Linked DNA regions of Homo sapiens: regions 2 and 3 are each linked to region 1. Evidence: fine-mapped expression QTL. A gene starts in region 1. Each other region holds a variant in brackets. All regions are shown on one strand. Distances are from middle to middle.

Evidence for each region. PIP is the estimated chance that this variant, and not a neighbour inherited with it, causes the effect.
Region 2: its variant is the best candidate, but not a certain one, in a credible set for the expression of SUGP2 in lymphoblastoid cells (TwinsUK, PIP 0.81).
Region 3: its variant is the best candidate, but not a certain one, in a credible set for the expression of SUGP2 in unexposed skin (GTEx, PIP 0.76).

The regions. Positions count from the first base shown.
Region 1 is chr19:19,030,899-19,036,338 of GRCh38, reverse strand. It overlaps SUGP2 (SURP and G-patch domain containing 2), which reads left to right and starts at 2,822. Exons shown (of 11, transcript NM_001017392.5): 1 at 2,822-2,902; 2 at 5,257-5,388. The coding sequence starts at 5,268. It overlaps ARMC6 (armadillo repeat containing 6), which reads right to left and starts at 2,736. Exons shown (of 9, transcript NM_001199196.2): 1 at 2,409-2,736; 2 at 2,101-2,208. The coding sequence starts at 2,129. RefSeq lists silencers at 2,733-3,162, 3,583-3,662 and an enhancer at 3,589-4,090.
Region 2 is chr19:19,765,531-19,770,970 of GRCh38, reverse strand. The region is part of intron 1 of LINC00663 (long intergenic non-protein coding RNA 663); the gene reads left to right. Among named protein-coding and RNA genes, the nearest start is that of LINC00663, 8.2 kb to the left of the region's middle. The variant TTG/G (reference allele first, on the strand shown) is at 3,159.
Region 3 is chr19:18,990,856-18,996,295 of GRCh38, reverse strand. It overlaps SUGP2 (SURP and G-patch domain containing 2), which reads left to right. Exons shown (of 11, transcript NM_001017392.5): 9 at 1,016-1,152; 10 at 1,810-1,930; 11 at 2,556-5,403. The coding sequence ends at 1,930. Among named protein-coding and RNA genes, the nearest start is that of SUGP2, 40 kb to the left of the region's middle. The variant G/T (reference allele first, on the strand shown) is at 2,262.

The sequences.
Region 1 (5,440 bases):
TGTAATCCCAGCATTTTGGGAGGCTGACACCGGTGGATCACCTGAGGTCAGGAATTCGAGACCAGCCTGACCAACATGGCGAAACCCCGTCTCTACTAAAAATATAAAAATTAACTGGGCGTGGTAGTGGGCGCCTGTAATCCTAGCTACTCAGGAGGCTGAGGCAAGAGAATTGCTTGAACCCGGGAGGTGGAGGTTGCAGTGAGCCAAGATTGCGCCATTGCACTCCAGCCTGGGCGACAGAGCGAGACTCTATCTCAAAAAATAAAACAAAAAACAAGAAACAAAACCTCAGATTCATGAGTCGGACTGAGGCATAAATGACTATTCCTCTACCTGCCCTGTACCCCATATAAATCGTGTATTCTGTGAAAGGCTGACCAAAGACTCAAAAGAAAGCAATCATTTGTCTCTACCTGTGACCATCTTACACATATTCATTTATATCTCACGTCTCCCTAAAATGTATAAAAGCAAGCTGTGCCCCAACCACCTTGGGTACATGTTGTCAGGACCTCCTGAGGCTGTGTCACAGACATGTCCTTAACCTTGGCAAAATAAGCTTTCTAACTGATTGACACCTGTCTCAAATACTTCGGATTCTCAGTCCTCTGTGGAGCTTCTGCCAGCCCTTCCAGGTGGCTGCCTTTCCTGGCCACTCAGAGAGCCCACACTCTCTGGCTTCACTCCCCAACCCACAACCCCTCCCTTCCACCCACCCCTGAGCTGACTGAGTTGGGAAGGTCTGGCTCTGTGACCACCCCTGACCTGAGTCCTCCAAGGTCCCCTAGATCTGGTACAGGGCTGAGTTGGAGGAGGAAAGTACAGATTTGGAACACATAAGATGGTGCCTGGAGATGGCCAAGTAAGAATTACCTGGAGAACAGCCTAGGCTAAAAGGGGGAAGCAGCATTACCAGTCCCTATTATCCATCAGGGCATGCTGAGGGTAAAACAGAAGATGAGTAAGGCCCCTAACTGGCAGCCAGTTTCCTTCTCTCAGCCAGGAATCTGCTCATCAAGAAAACTGTGCTGTCCAGGTGCGGTGGCTCAGGCCTATAATCCCAGCGCTTTGGGAGTCTGAGGCGGGTAGATCACTTGAGGTCAGGAGTTTGAGAACAGCCTGGCCAACATAGCAAAATCCTGTCTCTACTGAAAATACAAAAAATTAGCCAGGGCCGGGCACGGTGGCTCACGCCTGTAATCCCAGCACTTTGGGAGGCCGAAGCGGGCGGATCATGAGGTCAGGAGATCAAGACCATCCTGGCTAACACGGTGAAACCCCGTCTCTACTAAAAAAATACAAAAAAACTAGCCGGGCGTGGTGGCGGGTGCCTGTATTTCCAGCTACTCGGGAGGCTGAGGCAGGAGAATGGCCTGAACCCAGGAGACGGAGCTTGCAGTGAGCTGAGATTGCGCCACTGCACTCCAGCCTGGGTGACAGAACGAGACTCCGTCTCAAAAAAAAAAAAAAAGGCCAGGCAAGATAGTGCACACCGGTAATCCCAGCTACTCAGGAGGCTGAGGCAGGAGATCGCTTGAACTCCTTTTGACTCCGTTTCAAAAAAAAAAAAAATACAAAATTTAGCCAGGTGCGGTGTTGCGCACCTGTAGTCCCAGCTACTCGGGAGGCTGAGGCAGGGGAAGCCCTTGAACCCGGGAGGTGGAGGTTGCAGTGAGTCAAGATCATGCCACTACACTCTAGCCTGGGCGACAGAGAAAGACTCCGTCTCAAAAGAAAATTAAACGTGTGCCATGACATGCTGGGGACTCTAAAAGACTCCATCCACATGTCCCTCTACCAGCCACACCCACTCTGGTTCAAACACCAGCCTCCCCTAAGGGCGGCGTCACCTGCCACTCCCAGAGCCTAGACTCCACCTCACTCACGTGCTCAAAGCCCGGTAGTGGCTTCCCAACCCTCTCAGAACAAAACCCAGCCTCCTTATCCGCACCTTCTCTATCTAAGCCTTCCAAGTTCCTCTTCCCCGCCTTTCTCATCCTTCCCAGCACTCAAGAGACAGCCTTCAAAACCACTTCTAGATAAAGAGCAGCCCTGCTTTCCCGTCCCATCACTCTGTTATTATTTGCACACCATTACCTGTATCTAGAGCAACATCGTTCACTCATTTATTTGTACCCTGTAGCCTCCTTGTCCCCACTGCCTAGGACGGGGCCCGACACGCAGCAGGCACTCAGTGCACAGGTGCTGAATGAATAAATAAAATGAATGAAAATAAAGCGAATGCCAGGGAAGCCGAGGATTTTGTCCCCAGGCGGCTTCTGTAAAATTCTTTCATTTTTTTTTTCCCCCCAAACCACGTACCCGAGGGTCGCGCCAGCCCGACCCTGCGGCACCCCCACTCCCCACTCCGCGCGGGACAGGCCTCGGCAGCCGCAGCGTCTCACCCGGTCTTCGCGGCCACGTGGGGAAAGGTGGGGCGCGCGGTTGTCACCCAGGGAGCCGCCTCTAGCCCCTTCCGGCCGCCGTACGCGCGCAGGCGCTGTGGCGCCCCTAGGCTTGGCCTCCCAGAGACTCGCGGACGCTCACGATAACCAAGGACGACCGCGAACCAAGGTAAAGCCAACGAGGCCACCTCGTGCGCGACGGAGGCGTCTTTGCCGCCCCTTCCGGGACGCTCACGGTGGTCGCCGCCCCCAGCAGGGAAATGTTTTGCCTCCAGAGCGTCCGCCCAGAAGAAGCGGACAGCGCGCTTGCGCAAGAGAGCCGGGCCGCGGCGGCCCGCGCCTGCGCACCAGGACTCGGCGGCGGCTTGCGCCTGCGCGGCGCGGCGCTGCGGAGACCGTTGGTTCATTTGCATGTCCCCGCCTCGCGCGGCGGCGGCGGCGGGTGAGGAGCCTGAGGCGGCGGCGGGGGTGGCTCCGCGCGCGGTGGTCTCGGGGTGAGGCCCGGGCCCTGGCGTCGTCGGTGGGTGGCTCCCGGGGTGGGAAGCTCGGGCTCGGCCTTGGGGGCCCGCCCCGGGCTCCGTGATGGCGTCGCAGGCTCGGCCCTCTGGCTGCGGCGGCGGCCGCGTCCCCGCCGGGTTGGCCTGGGTGGCCGGCTGCGGCCTCCCGGGCCCGGCGCCCCCATTTCCTCGCCCGCAGAGGCCGGGAGACGGCGGGCCGCGTCCACAAAGGCTCATTGGTTCAGTCGTTCATTCATTCCTCCCGAACTCGGAGCGGCCCCCGCTCGGGAGGAGATAACGGCGCCCAGCGCTGCATCGGGCCCTTGCCCTCTTTAGAACCGGTTCAGCCCCCACACCAGCCCCTTTACTGGCTGCCCATTCCATAGGTGGGGAAACGGAAGCACAGAAAGCTTAGAATCGTGTGATTTGAACCTGGGTCACCTGACCCGGGAACCCTGCCCTTTGCCAGCAGAGAACAAGGGGGCGCCCCGGGAAAAGGGCTGAAGGATGGGACTGGGGGAGGCGGGTGGGGGAGGCGGTGATCGTGATGGGAAATGGACCCTACGGGTTGTCTCTTGAAGTTGGAGGTTTTGCGAAGCGGGATATCTTGATGGTTAAGGATGCAGCCCCTGGACCCCAAAATGTTGCTTAATCTTTTTACTCATTCTTCGGGGCTTTGGATGCACGAATACCCTTTTTGCCAGGTTCAAATCTGGGCTGTCTGGTCTTGAATGGGTCGTTGAGTCTGTCTCCCTTTGCCTCCTCACCCTAATGTCATTCATAACAGGACCCGCCTCTTCAGTGGGTGGTTGGGAGATCGCGCAAGGACCCAGCGCAGAATGAACTGTCACTAGTTCATTGTCATTGGTTGGGGGTCCCGCCACTCACTGTCAAGAGGCTTCTTTTAGAAGGGAAGGAAGTTCTCAGAGCCTCTGTGCCCTGCTGAGTCTGTGAATGGGAAAAGAGTGATCCTGGGCCAGGCGCAGTGGCTCACGGCCTGGAATCCCAGCACTTTGGGAGGCCGAAGCGGGCGAATCACTTGAGGTCAGGAATTCAAGACCAGCCTGGCCAACATGGTGAAACTCCATCTCTACCTAAAATATAAAAATTAGTCGGATGCGGTGGCGGACTCCTGTAATCCCAGCTACTCAGGAGGCTGAGGCAGGAGAATTGCTTGAGTCCAGGAGGCGGAGGTTGCAGTTAGCCGAGATCATGCCACTGCACTCCAGCCTGGGCAACAGGGAGAGTCTCAAAAAAAGGAAGAAAAAAAAAAAAAAGATTGATCTCTTCTTTCCTAACCACGATTTGCGAGGGTTGTGGTCCCACCCTTCCTACTCTGTTATGCTCAGTTATGTGTGTTGGTTGACACCTTCCTCCAGCAGATAGAACTGCTTTCACAGAGCTGCTTTTAATGGATTCCAAGGAGATGGGCCCAGAGAAGGTTTGTCTTGCTCCTTTTCAGCCAGCACACACCTGTGAACTTCGTGAGGGCAGAGACCCCCTTAAAAGAGTCCAGACAAGGTGGGCAGATTGCTTGAGGTCAGGAGTTCGAGACCAGCCTGGCCAACCTAGCAAAACCCTGTCTCTACTTAAAAAAAAAAAAAAAAAAGATAAATAAAAAGGGTCCAGCTTGCCTCTGAAGTACCATGCGAGGATTATGGATTACTGCCTCCTTACTTCGAGGATTAAGTGAAATAGAGCAGGTTCTGTGAGCACGCATTTTTTTTTTCTTTGAGACAGTCTCGCTCTGTCCCCCAGTCTGGAGGGCAGTGGCATGATCTCGGCTCACTGCAACCTCTGTCTCCCTGGTTCAAGCAATTCCCATGCCTCAGCCTCCTGAGTATTTGGGATTACAGGCACGTGCCACCATGCCTGGTGAAATTTTTTTTTTTTTTTTTTTGAGACGGAGTCTCACTCTGTTACCCATGCTGGAGTGCAGTGGCATGATCTCGGCCCACTGCAACCTCCGCCTCCTGGGTTCAAGCAATTCTCTTGCCACAGCCTCCCAAGTAGCTGGGATTAAAGGCAGGCACCACCATGCCCGGCTAATTTTTGTATTTTTAGTAGAGACAGGGTTTTGCCATGTTGGCCAGGCTGGTCTCCAACTCCTGACTTTAAATGATCCGCTCACCTCAGCCTCCCAAAGTCCTGGGATTACAGGTGTGAGCCACCACACCCAGCCTGAATTTTTTGTATTTTAGTTTCATCATGTTGCCTAGGCTGGTCTCGAACTCCTGAGCTCAGGTGATCCGCCCACCTCGACCTCCCAAAGTGCCAGGATTACAGGTATGAGCCACCGCGCCCAGCTCCAAGTTGTTGCTCTTAGTGTATTTTTTTCTCTCTCACCATAGGGCAAAATAACATGGCAGCCAGACGAATTACACAGGAGACTTTTGATGCTGTATTACAAGAAAAAGCCAAACGATATCACATGGATGCCAGTGGTGAGGCTGTAAGCGAAACTCTTCAGTTTAAAGCTCAAGGTAAAATAAAGTGTTGTTGTTGTAGTTGTTGTTTTGGTAGGGGTGTATCTTA
Region 2 (5,440 bases), 730 kb before region 1:
TCAAGTGATTCGCCCACCCCAGCCTCCCAAAGTGCTGGGATTACAGGCGTGAGTGAGCCACCACGCCTTGCCCAGCTTCTTATACTTTAAATTTACCTTTTTTTTTCTGATTTTATTCTGCTTTTTTTTTTTTTTTTTTTTTTTTTTTTTAGTATTTATTGATCATTCTTGAGTGTTTCTCGGAGAGGGGGATTTGGCAGGGTCATAGGACAATAGTGGAGGGAAGGTCAGCAGATAAACAAGTGAACAAAGGTCTCTGGTTTTCCTAGGCAGAGGGCCCTGCCGCCTTCCACAGTGTTTGTGTCCCTGGGTAGTTGAGATTAGGGAGTGGTGATGATTCTTAGAGCATGCTGCCTTCAAGCATCTGTTTAACAAAGCACAACTTGCACCGCCCTTAATCCATTTAACCCTTAGTGGACACAGCACCTGTTTCAGAGAGCACGGGGTTGGGGGTAAGGTTATAGATTAACAGCATCCCAAGGCAGAAGAATTTTTCCTAGTACAGAACAAAATGGAGTCTCCTATGTCTACTTCTTTCTACACAAACACAATAACAATCTGATCTCTCTTTCTTTTCCCCACATTTCCCCCTTTTCTATTCGACAAAACCGCCATTGTCATCATGGCCCGTTCTCAATGAGCTGTTGGGTACACCTCCCGGACGGGGCGGCTGGCCGGACGGGAGCTGCCCCCCACTTCCCAGATGGGGCGGCTGCCGGGCGGAGGGGCTCCTCACTTCTCAGACGGGGCGGCCGGGCAGGGACGCTCCTCACCTCCCAGATGGGGTGGCGGCGGGGCAGAGACACTCCTCAGTTCCCAGACGGGGTCGCGGCCGGGCAGAGGCACTCTTCACATCTCAGATGGGGCGGCAGGGCAGAGGTGCTCCCCACATCCCAGATGATGGGCGGCCAGACAGAGACGCTCCTCACTTCCTAGACGGGATGATGGCCGGGAAGAGGCACTCCTCACTTCCCAGACTGGGCGGCCGGGCAGAGGGGCTCCTCACATCCCAGACGATGGGCGGCCAGGCAGAGACGCTCCTCACTTCCTAGACGGGGTGGCGGCCGGGCAGAGGCTGCAATCTCGGCACTTTGGGAGGCCAAGGCAGGCAGTTGGGAGGTGGAGGTTGTAGCGATCCGAGATCACGCCACTGCACTCCAGCCTGGGCAACATTGAGCACTGAGTGAGCGAGACCCCGTCTGCAATCCCGGCACCTCGGGAGGCCGAGGGTGGCAGACCACTCGCAGTCAGGAGCTGGAGACCAGCCCGGCCAACACGGCGAAACCCCGTCTCCACCAAAAAATACGAAAACCATCAGGTGTGGCGGCGCGCGCCTGCAATCGCAGGCACTCGGCAGGCTGAGGCAGGAGAATCAGGCAGGGAGGCTGCAGTGAGCCGAGATGGCGGCAGTACCGTCCAGCCTCGGCTCCGCATCAGAGGGAGACTGTGCAAAGGGGAGACGAGGACCGTGCAAAGGGGAGAGGGAGGGGGAGGGGGAGAGGGAGAGGGCTTATTCTAAATTTACCTTTTTATATTGGAAGTGAGTTTCTTCTAAAGAGAATATGCATGGTCATATTTATTAATCAGTGTTGTCAGGCCGGGAACAGTGGCTCACGCCTGTAATCCCAGCACTTTGGGAGGCTGAGGCGTGCGGATCACGAAGTCAGAAGATCGAGACCATCCTGGCTAACACGGTGAAACCCCGTCTCTACTAAAAATACATAAAAAATAGCCGGGCGTGGTGGCGGGCACCTGTAGTGCCAGCTACTCGGGAGGCTGAGGCAGGAGAATGGCGTGAACCTGGGAGGCGGAGCTTGCAGTAAGCCAAGATCTCGCCACTGCACTCCAGCCTGGGCGACAGAGGAGATTCCGTCTCAAAAAAAAAAAAAAAATCAATGTTTTCAATCTTTGTCTCTAATTGATTATTTTATTTTATTTATTTATTTTTGACTGGTGGCAGTAGAATTTATTCAAATGTGCCTTAATACAGGTGCTAGGGCTTGCCGGTGGTGCTCTTGTTATATAAGGGCCGGACATTCTGCCGGTTTTCCGTGAGCAGTGACATCAGGAAGTTTACAGCCAGGTGAATGTTACACACATCGTCTGTGTGTAACATCGTCTGTCATCTTCACGTGGCTGACAGCCACAGCCAGACATAGCACCTTCTTCATTTGGGTGTTGATTGTGAACTTCACCTCATCCACTTTGGCCAGCATGTTTTTGTTGTGTGTCAGCGGAGATCTACTTGGTTAATTCAGAACATTTAACAGTTAAGTTAATTTTGTTAAAACTAGCCTGATACGTTGTTTTCTGTTTGTTCTCTCTGTTTTGTTCCTCTGTGTGATTTTTACTTTCTTCATGTAGATAATTTGAACATGTTTTAAAATTTCATTTATTTGTAGTGTTTTTGAGTATAGCTTTTTTAGTGTTAGATCAACGTATTACATTATATTCAGAAATTATCGTAGTTAACAATGTTTCAATTGTTCCTTGATATTCAAATACAATTTATAAAACACAAAAGGGAAAGAAAGCCTATTGTATCTACCCTCATTTTATCCCAGCATAGAAGGCACATTGGATAAAAGTTTTGTTTGATAAGGTGTCTTTCCTGGTCTTTTTGGCTGAAGACAGGAGTCTGTTGTTGGGTTTGCTTTTTGTTTTTTGGGGTTTTTTTGAGACAGTGTCTCTCTGTCACCAACGCTAGAGTGCAGTGGCATAATCACAGCTCACTGCAGCCTCAACCTCCCCAGGCTCAAGCCATCCTCCCATCCCAGACTCCCAAGTTGCTGGGACTATAGGTGTGCACCACCATACCCAGCGAATTTTTTGTAGAGGTGGTATTTCACCTCTACAAAAAATGATGCCCAGGCTGGTCTTGACCTCCTGAGCTCCAGTGATCCACCCGCCTCAGCTTCCCAGAGTGTTGGGATTATAGGCGTGAGCCACTGCACCTGGCTGAGAAGTATCTGGTTAGATCCTTTCCCATTTTAAATTTAGATTCTTTTTTTGTTTGTTTTTTGCTATTAAGTCATTTGAGTTCTTTGTATATTCTGGTTATTAATACCTTATTGGGTGGGTATTTTGAAAATACTTTCTGCCATTCTGTAGCTTTTCTCTTTACCTTGTTAATTTTTTTTTTTTTTTTTTTTTTTTTT[TTG/G]CTATGCAGAAGCATTTTGGGTTGATATAACCCCATTTGTTTTTGTTTTCGTTGCCTGAGCTTTTATGGTTTTACTAAAAAAAAAAAAAAAAAAAACCACTATCCAGACCAGTTTGTTCATTTTGGGTAACTGAAACTTTGTATCCCCCCAACCCCCGTTTTTCTTTCAGCTCAGCTTCTGGAAAACACCATTCTACTCTCTGCCTCTACACGTATAATTACTTCATATTTCACATGTATGTGAGATCATGATGTATTTGTCTTTCTATGTCTGGCTTCTTTCAATCGTGCCTTAATGTGTACCTTAGTATCCTTCAGGTACATTCATGTTGTCACAAATGAAAAGATTTACTGGCCGGGCGCGGTGGCTCACGCCTGTAATCCCAGCACTTTGGGAGGCCGAGGCAGGCTGATCAGCTGAGTTTGGGAGATCGAGACCATTCTGGCTAACACGGTGAAACCCCGTCTCTACTAAAAATACAAAAGATTAGCCAGGCATGGTGGTGGGCGCCTGTAGTCCCAGCTACTCGGGAGGCTGAGGCAGGAGAATGGTGTGAACCCAGGAGGCAGAGGTTGCAGTAAGCCAGGATCGCGCCACTGCACTCCAGCCTGGGTGACAGAGACTCCATCTCAAAAAAAAAAGAAAAGAAAAGATTTACTCCCTTTTTAAGGCTAATATTCTATTGCATGTATATACTACCTTTACTTGACACATTCATGTATCCTTCATGGACATTTAGGTGGCTTCCATATCTTGGCTATTGTGAATAATGCTGTAATAGACACAGAACTATGTAGCTCTTCAAGATCCAAATTATATTCCCTTTGGATGTATCCCCAGAATTGAGTTTAATGAATCAAACTGTAATTTTTTTTTTTTTCGAGACGGAGTCTCACTCTGTCACTCAGGCTTTAGTGCAGTGGTGCGATCTCAGCTCACTGCAACCTCTGCCTCCCGGGTTCAAGCAATTCTCCTGTCTCAGCCTCCCGAGTAGCTGGGATTACAGGTGCGCACCACCACTCACAGCTACTTTTTTTTTGTATTTTTAGTAGAGACAGGGTTTCACCATGTTGGCCAGGCTGGTTTTGAACTCCTGACCTCAAGTGATCCTCCCACCTCGGCCTCCCAAAGTGCTGGGATTACAGGCATGAGCCACCACACCCGACCTATAATTCTGTTTTTAACTTTTTGAGACAACTGTATGTTGTTTTCCATTGTTGCTGCCAATTTTAATTCCTGCCAGCTGTGTACAAAAGTTCCAGTATCTTCATAACTTTAGCACGCTTGTTTGTTTTTAATATACCTGTCCTCACAAGAGTGAGGTGATGCCTCACTGTGACTTAAATTTGCATTTGACTGACATTTAATGACACGGAGCATTTTTTAAAATATACCTGTGGCCATTCTTATGTCTTCTTTGGAGAAATGTTTATTTAGGTCATTACTCATTTATTAATCTTGTTATTTGGGGTTTGCTATTGAGTTGTAGAAATTCCTTGTATTTTTGGATATTAACCCTTTATCAGATATATTATTGGCAACTATTTTTTTCTCATTCCTTAAGTTGCCTTTTCATTTGTTGAATTTGTCCTTTGTTCAGAAGTTTTTCTATTCGAGGTAGTCCCACTTGTCTGTCCTGATTTTATTGCCTGTTCTTTGTCTTACTATTTTGTTTTTTTGAGACAGGGTCTCATTCTGTTGCCCAGGCTAGAGTGCAGTGATGCAATTTTGGCTCACTGCAACCTCTGCCTCCCAGGTTCAAGCAGTTCTGCCTCAGCCTCCTGAGTAGCCAGAACTACAGGAGTGCACCACCACACCCAAATAATCTTTAAAATAGATTTAGTAGAGATGGGGTTTTGCCATGTTGGCCAGACTGGTCTCCAACTCCTGACCTCAGGTGATCCGCCTGCCTCAGCCTCCCAAAATGCTGGGATTATAGGTGTGAGCCACCACACCCGGCCTGTTGCCTGTTCTTTTGAAGTCTAATTTAAAAAAAAGCATCTCAATGTCCAAAGTTCTGAAAATTTTTCCATATTTTTTTTCTAGCCATTTTATGTTTTCAGGTCTTATGTTTAAATATTTAATCCATTTTAAGTTAATTTTTAATATGGTATGAAGTAAGAGTCCACATTTATCCTTTTGCATATAGAGATCCAATTTTTCCAGCACTATTTACTTAAAAGACTCTCATTTCTCTGTTGTGTATTTTTGGCACCCTTGTTGAAGATCAGTTGATTGTATGCATATATTAGATTTATTCTGGGACTCTCCATTCTGTT
Region 3 (5,440 bases), 40 kb after region 1:
GCCTCACAAGTAGCTGGGATTACAGGTGCCTGCCACCATGCCTGGCTAATTTTTGTATTTTAGTAGAGACGGGGTTTTGCCACGTTGGCCAGGCTGGTCTGGAACTCCTGACCTCCAGTGATCCACCCACCTCGGCCTCCCAAACTGCTGAGATTACAGGCATGAGCCACCACGCCCAGCCCACCCACACAAGTTGACTCGTGAAGAGCCAAGGAATACATGGCAAGGTCTTGGACTGCCCAGCTGGGCTCTGTCACACAGCAGTGTGTCATGAATATTCATGAGTGAATAGAAATTCCTTCTGCTACAGCCCTGCAGGCTCCTCCTCCAGAGGCCCCAGGGCCCTGTCTGTCTCCAGATCTCCATCTAGTGGCCCAGAGATTGCTGCACTTCCCCACCACCCACAGGAGCAATCAACAGCTGTACTAGCTCTCAGTGAGGTCTGCTCTGTGCTAGACACAGACCCCAATGTCCAAGTAGAACTCAGTCCTGAGGACAGACAGACAATGCAGCCAGGGAGTGAATGAAGCACTCGGGGAGGGGTATGTTGGGGTGGTTCAGGGAGGGTGCTGCCAGCCAGTTCTCACCCACTGTCTGGCCCCCATCCTGCCTGCAGGCCTGTGCCCTGGTGCCCCCCACTCTTCCCTGGGCTGCGCCCTGTGGTCATCACAGGGCCACCCTTCTTTATCCAGGGTTCCGCTGAGGGCCTTCCTACTGACTCCTTGACCCCGGGACTGGCCATTCCCTTACCCAGTTTTCCTCACAGTCTTGGCACCAGGGTTATAGTGGTAGCTGAGAGGCACGACTGACCTCAGGCCAGTGACCTCTGACTTAGAAGTTCCATCCCACCCAGGGATGTTGCAGAGAACTGGGGAAGTGACTGGAGCTTGAGCCTGAGCATCTGGGGAGTCAGGAGGGCATTTGGGGGTGAGGGGCTCCAGGCATAGCCTAGGACAGACCCTTGATCCAGGCATCTCCCTGTGGCCCACATGCCTGGACTCTCCTCTCTCCTCAGAAACCCAAGGACTTGGACTTCGCCCAGCAGAAGCTGACCGATAAGAACCTGGGCTTCCAGATGCTGCAGAAGATGGGCTGGAAGGAGGGCCATGGCCTGGGCTCCCTCGGAAAGGGCATCAGGGAGCCGGTCAGCGTGTACGCAGCAGGCAGCCTGGGGTGGGAGTGGGTGGGGCCTCAGTCCTTCCACCTGCAGCCTGCCGCTTGGCTCCTTCACAGCCAAGATGGCTTACAGCTGGCAGTTGATTTTTGTTTTTTAAACAGAAGGCATCTTCAGATGAGAAGCTGATCATTTACATGTGCAGGTGTTTACAGGGCTCCTTTCTGTCCTGGTGTAGATTTTTTAACCAGCTTGTTGGCCCTGGTCATTTTGGCCACATTTGTGACCATCATAAAAGCTAAGTGGTATTTCTGTGTAGTTTCCGTCTGGAACTGCTTTCCCATTCCCGGGAACCCATAGCCGGGCCAGCCAGGGTCCCGAACACAGGCCCAAAGTTTATTAAACCCCGATCATAACCTCCAGCAGGCATTTCATTTAATACTGAGCTTAGTTCCTGCTGGGTAAGGCATTCCGAGGTAACCAGGGCCCTCTGGGCACCCCCTCAAAAGCCAGCTCTTCGAGGGTGAGTACTCCTTGTTTCTACTGTGAGTCGCGTCTTGATTTTCCCTTTCTTTGATGTCTCAGTGTGTGTCCCAAACACCTGCATCTCATGGACTGTTTGTGCCCATGCCCAGTTCCTGGCATGCCAGGCCCTGGGCTCAGGTGCACAACTGACTCTCTTTTTCACTCCCTAGGGGAACCCCCTCGGAAGGGGAAGGGTTGGGTGCTGACGGGCAGGAGCACAAAGAAGACACATTCGATGTGTTCCGACAGAGGATGATGCAGATGTACAGACACAAGCGGGCCAACAAATAGGTATGTTCACAGGCCAGTGTGTAAGGCCGTCTGCCCTCGCTGGCGTGCTGGTATGCAGAGAAATTTCCCCCAACAAAGTTGATGTTCCCTGCTCCCCCAAAAATGCCACACACAAAAAAAATCACAAAATTCTGTGAGGGAAACAAAAGGGTCTATGGATGTGGATATGCCCCATTCTTACCTTCCAGGTTTGCTGAAGGAGCAAACCTCACACTGGCCAAGGGCAGATGCGCATGGCCTGCCTGGTGCCCCGGCTGTGAGCCCCTCAAGGCCTCCAGGCCAGCCTCCGTGGATGTGCGTGTGGAAATAGGCCACGCCTGTCTCTTCTCTT[G/T]CTCAAGTTTTCTCTCACAGATGACAGCCACCTACCACATAACATGACCAGCAAACGGACTGTTCCTAGTCCAGAGGGCCTTGCCATCATGCAAGTGGAAGGGCGACTGTGACAGCCACTGCCACAGAGGATGGCAGTTGGCTGTGTCCCTTTGTGAGGGTCTTCAAATCCTTTTCCTTCTGCAGGGCCTTGGGCCTGTAAATATCCTCATCTTTCTATTCTTTTTTTTTTTTAGTTGCCCCCTCACCTAATTTCCACCTCAGTTTTGAACAAAATCGTTCTCTTCCTGAATAGATCAAAACCACTGATGTGAAAGATAAGCCTTGAAGCAGCAATTGCCCTTAAAACATCATCCCTGCCCTGGATCGGCCTGGAGCCAGTGCCCAAGTACGGTTTGGTGTGTACATGAAAACAAACGTCTCTGCAGTCTCTGGGGCGGAGGTTTCGCTGGCTTTTCTTTCTCTCAAAGAAAAAAACATGCACCATTTTCAATGTGCTTTTGCCTCTCCTCTCTGTTCACATGCTTTTAGCAGCAAGTCCCCTCCAAATCTGTCTTGGTTCCCCTTCAGAAGGTGGCGCTGCCCCCGAAAGGCACCTCAGCCTGTGAGTGCTGAGGAACCAGCTCCTCTGGCTGATTTTCCAGTTGGACTGGCCATTGCTCTCCAGAAGTGCTCTGTTAGCAAACGTGATGTGGAAACGATCACAGATGGTGTTTTCTCGTTGTTCGCCAGAATTTATACGGGGGAGACAAATTCCCGGTAATTACCAAGTCTGCACTCGGGTACCAAAGCTCTGAAGCTCTCTGAACAGTTGCCATACTTGAGTTGATGAATGTGTTATTCATGGTGTCTCATCTCATCAATGCATCTTGAGAGACTTAATGAAATTTTAGCAACAGTATAGAATAGCTCTATCGGGTGGGGAGTAATCATTAAACAGATGAAATCGGCCCCAGATTTACATGTCTCTTTAGAATCCACAGTGTAAGCAAACTACAGTTACAAAGGGATGGGGGTTGTAAACCCTCTGAGACTCTGCACTTTTCGCACGTATGGCATCGTCAAGTGCTGTCTTATTACAGCCTTTGTAAGGAGAGGCAGGCTCCTCCTGGGGTGGGCTCTGCAGCTGCTCTATTTCCAGGCATGTGATCGCCCCCGCTCTCCAGATTCCCCAGCACTCTGCTGCGTGTAACTCCACTCAATTCTCCACTCATCCTTCCTTGTGAAGCAGGATCGTTGAAGTTTTAAGTATGGGCAAAAATCTGGAAAACTTAGGATCCCTCTGACACCCCAGGATTAGGGGACACAGCAGTGGCTAGGGCATCAGCCACAGAACTGAGCGGGAAATGCCACTTGTATTGGCTGTAAAGAAATCCTGGCTTTGGGCCAGGCACAGTGGCTCAAGCCTGTAATCCCAGCACTTTAGGAGGTTGAGGCGGATGGATCACCTGAGGTCAGGAGTTTGAGACCAGCCTGGCCAACATGGTGTAACCCCGTCTCTACTAAAAATACAAAAAAATTAGCCAGGCGTGGTAGCGGGCACCTGTAATCCCAGCTACTCAGGAGGCTGAGGCAGGAGAATCACTTGAACCGGGGAGGCAGAGGTTGCAGTGAGCTGAGATCATGCCACTCCACTCCAGCCTGGGCGACAGAGCAAGACTCCATCTCCAAAAAAAAAAAAAAAAAAGGCCGGCACGGTGACTCACGCCTATAATTCCAGCACTTTGGGAGGCCGAGGCAGGTGGATCACGAGGTCAAGAGATCGAGACCATCCTGGCCAACATGGTGAAACCCTGTCTCTACTAAAAATGCAAAAAATTAGCTGGGCGTGGTGGCGGGCGCTTGTAGTCCCAGCTACTCAGGAGGCTGAGGCAGGAGAATCACTTGAACCCGGGAGGCGGAGGTTGCAGTGAGCCGAGATTGTGCCACCGCACTCCAGCCTGGCAACAGAGCGAGACTCTGTCTCAAAAAAAAAAAAGGAAATCCTGGCTTTCTTTAAGCCACAGACTTCCTAGGCTGTGGTCCCAGCTCCTTGTCTGCCTGGTCCCTGTCACCTTGCAGTGCCACCACCCCCAGGGGCTCTGCTTGCTTCCAGTGGCTTCTGTAGCTTTGGCAACTGGCAGATCTTTATGGCAGTAGAGGTGCCAGCATGGAGGATGGAGTTTGGGTTTATAACCCAACCCTCGAACGAACCAGCCTGTGGGGGCCTGGAGTGGAGCTGGTTTTGGGGAGTCACAGGTGCGGGGGGTTCATCTTCTCCTTTCTCCTTCTCCTTTCCTGACCCCTCCGACAGCTTCCATGTTGGCCATGGGTCAGGTGAATGGATGGAGCTCCAAGCGGGGCTCAGCCCATTGACCCGAGCGAGGCGCACACACCTGCAGCGTGGATCAAGCGCACTCTCTCCAGCATCGCCCTGACCATTCCATGTGCTTTGTCCTAGCATGTTCATTCTTGACTTTCTCCACTTCATTTTATTAAAAAGTTAAATGCTTTAGGAATCTGTGGCGTGTGGCCACTGACCGCCCCCCACCTCCTGCCGCTCCTCCAAGTTTGAGCTGAGATGGTTCTGTGAGTCCTTGGCAGGGGTCAAAGGGCACATCTCCTTGAACCTAGAAAGCCCCCTACACTCTCAGAGGACACCTCTCCTGTGGATTCAGCGCTGGGGCAGTGAAGGTGTCGGGAGCCAGCAGAGCATGGTGCGTGCTGCCAGCTGCCGGCCAGCCGGGATAGAGGAGATGCCACTGGCCCTCCGTGCCCCCAGCCCCTCCCTCTTAACCGAGGCTGTCCTTGCTCTCTGCAGAGGCCGCTCTGCAGGATCCTCGTGTCGCGCGTGATGTGTGGTGGCACAGCCGTGTCAAAGTCACAGTGTCTTTTCTGTCGTTCTAGTTCCAGGGTCACCCCCGAGAGGACAACAGGCATCTGGAAGTGCTCTCTCGCCACTCTGGGTGCTTTACTGTCTCTGGCTTGTTTCCATCACTGGAAATCACTTAGAGAATTGTAGTGTTTTTGGTCCTTGATAAAGCCTAGAAGACATTTGTGATGTTACAAAATGGAAGTTTTCTTTTGTTTCTGTTTTTTAAGATCTAAGAAGTTGTGAATGTTGTTAATCATTTAGCCGTTGCAATAAATGTAGAGGAAATGCAGTGTGCTGGGGTCTCCATGGCTGTGTTTTTAAAATCA